Homo sapiens: one gene and its partner. The protein of the gene in region 1 interacts with the protein of each later gene in a pairwise test. Each region holds a gene or a part of one and is shown on either strand. Other genes may lie near its edges.

The links. The genes of interacting proteins can lie anywhere in the genome.
Region 2: the proteins of TMEM101 (region 1) and NINJ2 interact in binary tests that used the Homo sapiens proteins (3 or more experiments, as listed by UniProt).

What each region holds. Positions count from the first base shown.
Region 1 is NC_000017.11:44,011,354-44,016,823, forward strand, and holds the start of TMEM101 (transmembrane protein 101), read right to left. Parts: upstream 3,611-5,470; 5' UTR 3,600-3,610; coding exon 3,463-3,599; intron 3,185-3,462; coding exon 3,004-3,184; intron 1,803-3,003; coding exon 1,656-1,802; intron 884-1,655; coding exon 575-883; 3' UTR 1-574. UniProt on the Homo sapiens protein: May activate NF-kappa-B signaling pathways.
Region 2 is NC_000012.12:653,446-656,945, forward strand, and holds part of NINJ2 (ninjurin-2), read right to left. Parts: intron 1-3,500. UniProt on the Homo sapiens protein: Its role in unclear. In contrast to NINJ1 paralog, does not mediate plasma membrane rupture (cytolysis) downstream of necroptotic and pyroptotic programmed cell death.

The sequences.
Region 1 (5,470 bases):
CTCTACTCTCAAGGTGAGTGACAGAGAGCCGGTACTGTTTCTGCCCCTGGCATACCCTGAGAACCCATGTGACTTCTGTAGTGCTCAGCCCCTGTGCCCTTCCTGGGCCTGATCCACATGTGTCAACACACGCACTCCCTCTCACAGTCTCCAAACAGCACTGCAGAGCCTAGCTGCATCTGCCAGGTTCAAAGAGGAATTTTTCACATTTGCTCACTTCCAATCTCCATCTTCCTTCCTCTGTCTCCCACTCTCCCACTCTCAGTAGCCGCATCCCAGCCCTGCCATACTCCCTTCTCAGGGACAGGAGACTCAGTGGGCAGCTGGCCTCAGCTCTCCTAACAGGAAAAAAACCTGTACAGCATTAGTGCCAGGGCTCCTGCCCTCCCAAGCGCTGAGCCCAGAAATTTGGACAAATGAGCTGCCTCTTAACTGCAAAAAACAATTTTAAAAAAGCAAAAGATCAAACAAACAGACCAAAAAGCATAAATAAACAGCAGCTGGGCCAGCAAGGAGGAAGGCAGGGTGACCCTCAGTGGCTCCCTGTGCCCATCTCAGCCTCTTGCCATAAAACTCAGCCATCAGTGGCCAGGATGACAGCAGTTCCGAAGATGCCCACACTCTCTCCAAGGAGCTTCATCTGGTTCCAGAACTCAACACGCCGCGTGTTGTGCCAGTAAGCAACATTGCCATCAATGAGCAGCATGACAGGGGGCAGCAGTACAGCCAGGATCTGGGCAGCGAGGGTCACGTAGTAGCCTGACAGAAAGGCCAGGGCCAGGATGCCATACAGCACGAAGAACAGCTGGATCATCAGCTCCCCTCCTGGGAGATGGTTCAGATACGCCAGCCGGTCCTCCTTGCTGTGCTGCAGTGAGTAGGCCTGGAGACATAACATCCTCTAAGACTCTCCAACAGGCTCAGAAGCCTGTCTGGGGTAAACCACCCCTGAGATGGCACCTGCAAATGAGTCCCTGCAGATGGGCTTCTGACTCCCCTCTTGGACTGGGGAACCTCTGAAAGTAGGGCCTTTGTCTCCCCCTCGGACTATGGAGCCCCAGGAGATTAGGGCCCATGTCTCCCCTCACCCTAGGGGCTATGAAGGAAGTGTATTTCCACAGTCAGACTAGAGCTCCCACCTCTGAATATGGGAGCCCACACAGAGAGCTGTACAGAGATATACTCGGTAATTAAGATAAGACCTAATGGCCTGGCGCCTGTCCATGTCTCCAGTCACCCTGGCCTCCCCTAGCACCAGGGAGAACCATAAGTGGCTACCCTAGAGCTCTCATCAGCTCTAGGGGGCAGAGTCCCAGCTGGGGCCTGACCCCCACCAAACCTCTCCTTTATCCCCTTCTAGTCCTTTGGGGGCTGGAGCCATGAGAGAATCACCCCATCTTGTTCTCCTGGCTCTCAGGGTTGAAATTTAATGGCCAGTCTACCTCGTGGCAACACTGTTGGAGGAAGGGCCTCTCAACAGGCATTTGGAGGGCCCCTGAGGCCTAGAAGCTGGCCAGGGCAATTCCCAGGGAACTGGGCCATCAGGAACTGCACTCAGGGCCTCGTTCTGTGTCTACCTTCCTGGGGTTCTGCCATGCCTAGACTCACAGTTCACTCCCAGCCAGGCACCTCCAACCAACAGTCCCCCAACATACCACACAGATGAGGTAGATACCCAGGAACACCTGGCCGGTGGACTGCAGGGAGCGGCTGCGAGGTTTCCGGCGGTACAGCTCCCCAGCACCGCTGGCCAACACAAGAAAGCCGCCGATGATGGCAACTGTGCGCGAGTACATACGGACCTAGGCCGGGGTAAGGGGACCCCAGTCAAGAACTGCAGCCGCCACATCTCTCCTGGCTTCCCAGAGTGTAGAACCACCCCTCTCTACACATCCCATTCCATCTGATGAACCCTCTTACATTTCCAAGCTTGGTGGGCAGGTGCAACAGAGACAGATCATTCTTTTTATATATATATAGAAGTAGAAACTGAGGCCCAGAGGGTTAAGAAAACTGTCAGGTCTGGCCAGGCGCAGTGGCTCACGCCTGTAATCCCAGCACTTTGGGAGGCCGAGGCAGGTGGATCACCCTGAGGTCAGGAGTTTGAGACTAGCCTGGCCAACATGAGGAAACCCTGTCTACTGAAAATACAAAAATTAGTCGGGCGTGGGGAAGGGCGCCTGTAATCCCAACTACTTGGGAGACTGAGGCAGGAGAATCGTTTGAACCTGGAAGGCGGAGGTTGCAGTGAGTTGAGACAGCGTCACTGCACTCCAGCCTGGGCGACGGAGAGAGACTCTGTTTCAAAAAACAACAACAAAAAAGAAAACTGGCAGGTCCTACCTGCCAGTAAGTGGCAGAACCCAGACACAATGTGTTTCTCCCTTCCCCACTCTCAGATCTGTAGACTCTAATCTTGGTGTTCTTTATTCTACATGGCATGGGATCTATGCCACAAAAACATTGATCTTGCTGCCCTGTAGCTGTTCACACATCTTCCTCCCCTAAGGGTCTGACAGTCTCTTCCTCAAGGACAGTGCCTTTGTCCAACCTTATCTCCAGCCTGCAGGGCCTGGCACAGGTTCTGGCTTAAATGCTATACTAACAGTAATTACATTTTCATAAAATTTATTTTATGAAAACTAGGTACTCTCCAAGGTCCTTTGTACCCCATGAGTCTGAGATTACTAAACTAACAGTTTAAAAGATTCTGGGAACCAGGTGACCGGGGTTCTGGTCCCACCAGTATCCTGTATTGTGGCTTTGGGAAAGTCTGTTTCCCATCTCTAGACCTCAGTTTCCACACTTTGAAGAGGAAGTTTGTGTGGTCTCTAAGATCCATTTCTGCGCTCTGTAATCTCCATAAGCCAAGGGGTTCGAACCTCCCAGGCTTCACACTGTGCAGCTGGCCAGCACCATTCATCGCCCACCAACAGCCCTGGGCATTGGCCTCTGATTCCCCGTCACCCAGAGGGAAGACCCTTTTGGGGCCGAGGCGCTCACCTTCAGCCAGTCCCCGTAGTGGACGTAGCCCCCGATGTAGGCGGCGTAGGTGCTAATGGCCAATTGGAGTGCGGCCCCCAGCGCGAACCAGCGCCGCTTCACGCCAAAGGACATGAAACTAGCGCACAGCACGGCTGCCCCCATGTCGAAATACAGGTAAGGCACTGGGATGTCGGGCTTCCTGCGAGCCGGGAGTGGGGAAGCAACGAGGACAGAATGAAGCGGTGGGGGAAGAAGCTTGAGACCCCTTGAGTTCCCACAGGCTCCACTGCTCCCCCAAACCAGACTCCCCTCCCATGGGCAGGACCGCCCTACCAGATTTGGTCCGACACCCAGACCAGAACCCCTCCCAGGGAGGTCCCAATTCCTCCCAGTTCAAGGGTCCCGACTTCTAGCCCCCAATTTCTTGCCCACATCACCGCCCCCTGCCGCGTTTAGCGGCTGCGTAGGCCTGCTCACCGGCGTGCCTCAGCCCTCTCAGCGTACAGCATGAGCTGGCTGAAGCAGCCCCAAAAGGGGCAGCGTGTGAGCAGCACCGAACCCAACTGCATGATCAGCTGCAACATCCACCGTCTCGAACCTATCTTCGACGCCATCTTGGGAAAGGGCAGTCCGCTGCGGCCTCACCCCAGTCAGAGAAGCAGGCGCGGGGATGGGACACGCAGCTTCCGGGTCAAGCGCTTTTTCTTTTTCCTCCCGGAAACAACGGTGTCATTCTCTAGTTCCGGATCTAAGGTGACCCAGTTGCGAAGTCCAGCCTTCTCGTCTGCTCATGGAGCCTTCAGGGCCATATTTGTCCCTGCGAATTTGAAAACTAGACTAGAGGAAGGAACAGTGGGTTCAGGATAGCAGAAGTCTTGGACCGTAGTATGATGTATTGAAGCAAACTGGTCTTTGAATGCAGCCCGATCAGGGCCCTAATCCTGATTCCAACCCTGTGTGATTCTGGGCACATCACCTAAACTTTATGAGACTCATCATGAAATGGGGATAATTACACCTACCTCAGAGTTGTGAACTTTTTTTTTCTTTTTTTTTTGTTTTGTTTTGTTTTTGAGACGGAGTCTCACTCTGTCGCCTAGGCTGGAGTGCAATGGCACGATCTTGGCTCACTGTAACCTCCGCAACCTGGGTTCAAGCGATTCTCCTGCCTCAGCCTCCTGAGTAGCTGAGACTACAGGCTCTCGCCACCACGCCCGGCTAATTTTTTGTATTTTTAGTAGAGACGGAGTTTCACCGTCTTAGCCAGGATGGTCTCGATCTCCTGACTTCGTGATCCGCCCGCCTCGGCCTCCCAAAGTGCTGGGATTACAGGCATGAGCCACCGCGCCAGGCCAGAGTTGTGAACTTTAAATGTGACAAGGTCGGTCCTAGTACATAGTAGTGGTTCAATAAATGATACACATAACGCACCAGAGGAAACCCCCGTTTCTGTTAAGATCAAAGTAAGGGGTCCTCCTGGCTCAAAGTCACCTCTTTGGGTTTGCCTTTTGCCTGTGCCCTGAGAGAAAAAGGAGATCTGAACATCTGGGACATCTCAAGTCAGTCCATTTCTCCAGCTGCCATGCTCCCGCTGTAACCCAAATTGTCATACTTTGTCAGTTTAATTGCAGCAGACATCCAGGTGGTCTCTGCATTCCCCTCCAGTGTGTTCTCAGCCCCTTCTCCCACGCCCCACCCGTTTATATGTTCTCATAACATCAGCTACCTTCCTTTGAATCACTTGGCACGGTGGCAATTAGATAGATAGATAGATATAGATACACACGCACACACACACACACACACATATATATATATCTGCTTTACATATATATGCTTTTTTTTTATTTTTGAGACAGGGTCTCACTGTGTCACCCAGGCTGGAGTGCAGTGGTGCGATCTTGGCTCACTACAGCCTACACCTCCCAGGTTCAAGCGATTCTCCTGCCTCAGCTTCCCAAGTAGCTGGGATTACTGGCGCTTGCCACCACACCCGGCTAATTTTTATTTTTAGTGGAGACAGGGTTTCACCATGTTGGCCAGGCTGCTCTCGAACTCCTAACCTCAAGCGATCCAACCGCCTTGGCCTCCCAAAGCGCTAGGATTACAGGCGTGAGACACCGCACCCAGCCAATATATTTGTGATTGTTTTATTGACAATCTTCCCCTACTAGATCGCAAGCTCCCTAAGCACAAACACGGTGCCTGGGTTTCTGTTTACTGTTTACAGATGCTCCTTGACTTGTGATGGAGTTATATCCTGATAAACCCATCATAGGTTGAAAATACTGTAAGTTGAAAATGTGTGGCTGACTGGAAGCTGTGGCTTGCTGACACTGCCCAGCATTGTAAGAGAAATACAGTTTCCACTGAATGCAGATCTGCTTTCGCACCAATGTAAAGTTGAAAACTCCAATGCTGGGAACCATCTGTAGTATACAGGATGCCCTCAGGACCTAGTATACAGGATGCCCTCAGGAAATAT
Region 2 (3,500 bases), on another chromosome or scaffold:
TAAAATGAATGCCAGCAATGATACGTGGAACAGGATGGAGGAATTAGGATTGTTTTGTTATCATAAGGTACTCACACGATCCATGAAATGGTATAGTGTTATTTGAAAGTGCACTTGGATTTGTTGTACTTGTAAACTGCAAACTCCAGGGCAATAACTAAAAAAAGTTAAAAAAAAGTACAACTGATACACTATGAATGGAGATAAAACAGGAACATATAAAATGCTCAGTTAAAACCACCAAAGGCAAAAAAAAAAGTGGAAGACAAAAATAGGAGCAAAGAATGAGGGTAACAAATAGAAAAACAGTAACAAATGTGGTAGATCCAACTATATCAGTAATCACTTTGAATGTCAATGGTCTAAGTGCATAATTGAAAGGCAGAAATTGTCAGGATGGACACAAAAAGAAGACTCAACTGTATGTTGTCTACAAGAAACTCACATTAACCATAAAGATACATATAGATCAGCTGAGTGTGGTATCTCACCCCTGTAACCCAGCACTTTAGGAGGCTGAAATGGGAAAATCACTTGAAGCCAGGAGTAAGACTAGCCTGGGCAATATAGTGAGACCCCATCTCTACAAAGAATAAGAAAATAGCTGGGTGTGGTGGTTTGTGCCTGTAGTCCTAGCTGCTTGGGAGGCTGAAGTGGGAGGATTGCTTGTGCCAAGGCATTTCAGGCTGCAGTGAGCCAAGATGGTGCCACTGCACTCCAGCCTGGGTGATGGGTGATAGAGTAAGACCTTGTATCAAACAAAAAAAGACACATACGGATTAAAAGTAAATGGATGGGGTCAGGCACGGTGGCTCACGCCTGTAATCCCACACTTTGGGAGGCCGAGGTGGGCAGATCACCTGTCAGGAGTTCGAGACCAGCCTGACCAACATGGAGAAACCCCGTCTCTACTAAAAATATAAAAATTAGCCGGGCATGGTGGCACATGCGTATAATCCCAGCTACTCCGGACCTTGAGGCAGGATAATTGCTTGAACCCGGGAGGCAGAGGTTGCGGTGAGCCGAGATCATGCCATTGCACTCCAGCTTAGGCAACAAGAGTGAAACTCCGTCTCAAAAAAAAAAAAAAAAAAGAATTATACACCACACCAACTGGGGTTTAGTCCAGGTATGCAGGACTGGTTCAACATTTGAAAATCAATTAATGCTAGGTGCAGTGGCTCACGCCTTTAACCCTAGCACTTTGGGAGGCCGAGGTGGGTGGATCACCTGAGGTTGGGAGTTCAAGACAAGCCTGACCAACATGGAGAAACCTGTCTCTACTAAAAATACAAAATTAGTCGGGCGTGGTGACACCCGCCTGTAATCTCAGCTGCTCGGGAGGCTGAGGCAGGGGAATCACTTGAACCTGGGAGGTGGAGGTTGCAGTGAACTGAGATCAACTATTGCACTCCAGCCTGGGCAACAAGATCCAAACTCCATTTCAAAAAAAAAAAAAGAGAATAAAATAAAAACAAAAGAAAATCAATTAATGTAATTAATCACACCAACTGACTAAAAAAGAAAAATCACATGATCATATTAATAGATGTAGAAAAAGTATTTGGCAAAATTCAACACCCATTCATGATAAAAACTCTCAGTACACTAGATAATTTCCTCAATTTGATAAAGAATATCTACAAAAAGCCTATAACTAACATCATACTTAATGATAAGAAAGTAGAAGCACTCCCACTAAGATTAGAAACAGGCAAGGATGTCTCCTGTCACCACTGCTTCATACATTGAATTTGCATTCAGTATGAACAAGTCTTAGCAGTTTCCCAGTCTTTGCTAGGAAGTCCTAGTAAATGCAATGTAGTTCCTTCAGAAAAAGGAAATGAAGGGACTACAGATTGGGAGTGAAGAAATAAAACTATCTCTGTTTGCAGATGACATGATTGTCTATGTAGAAAATCTAAATGAACTGACCAAAAATCTGCTGGAACTAATAAGCAATTATAGCAAGGTTGCAGGATACAAGGTTAATACATAAAATGCAATCACTTTCCTATGAAACAGCACTGAACAAGTAGAATCTGAAACTTAAAACACTACCATTTACATTAGCACCTAAAAAAGTGAAATGCCTATGTATAAATCTAACAAAATATGTACAATATCTATTATGAGGAAAACTACAAAACTGATTAAATAAATCAAGGAACTAAATAAATGAAGGGGACAAGCGCGGTGGCTCACGTCTGTAATCTCAGCACTTTGGGAGGCTGAGGCGGGTGGATCACTTGAGGTCAGGAGTTCGAGACCAGCCTGGTCAACATGGTGAAACCCTGTCACTACTAAAAATACAAAAATTAGCTGGGCATGGTGGCACGCACCTGTAATCCCAGCTACTCAGGAGGCTGAGGCAGGAGAATTGCTTCAACCTGGGAAGCGGAGTTTGCAGTGAGCTGAGATTGTGCCACTGTACTCCAGCCTGGGTGACAGAGCAAGACTCCATCTTAATAAATAAATAAATAAATTTATAAATAAATATAAAATAAATAGATAGATAGATATTCCATGTTTATGGATAAGAGGACTCACTATAGATTCAAACAATCCCAATCAAAATCAGTTGTGAATATCAACAAACTAATTGTATAGTTAGTTTATATAGAGAAGCAAAAGACCCGCAGGGCGTAGTGGCTCGCGCCTGTAATCCCAGCACTTCGGGAGGCTGAGGTGGGTGGATCATGAGGTCAAGAGATCGAGACCATCCTGGCCAACATGGTGAAACCCCATCTCTACTAAAAATACAAAAAATTAGCTGGGCGTGGTGGTGGGCACCTGTTGTCCCAGCTACTTGGGAAGCTGAGGCAGGAGAATCACTTGAACCCAGGAGGCGGAGGTTGCAGTGAGCCAAGATTACGTCACTGCACTCCAGCCTGGAGACAGAGTGAGACTCTGTCTAAAAATAAAATAAAATAAAATAAACCCAAAATAGGTGACAAAATACTGAAGGAAAAGAACAAAGTCAGAGGACTGACACTACCCGACTTGAAGAATTACTGTAAAGCGGCCAGGCATGGTGGCTCACACCTGTAATCCCAGCACTTTGGGAGGTAGGGTCTGGTGGATCACAAGTTCAGGAGTTCGAGACCAGCCTGGCCAAGATGGTGAAACCCCATCTCTACTAAAAATACAAAAATTAGCCAGATGTGGTGGCGGGCCCCTGTAATCCCAGCTACTCGGGAGGCTGAGGCAGGAGAATCGCTTGAACTTGGGAGGTGGAGGTTGCAGTGAGCCGAGATTGCGCCACTGCACTGTAGCCTGGGTGACAGAGCAAGACTCTGTCTCAAAAAAAAAAAAAAATTACTGTAAAGCTACAATAATTAAGACAATGTGTTTTGGACAAAGAATAGACAAATAGATCAATGGAACAGAATAATGAACCCAGAAATAGACCCAACTGATCTTTGATAAAGGAACAAAGACAATACGATGTAGCAGAGATAGTCTTTTCAACGAATGGTGCCAGAATAACCGGGCATCCA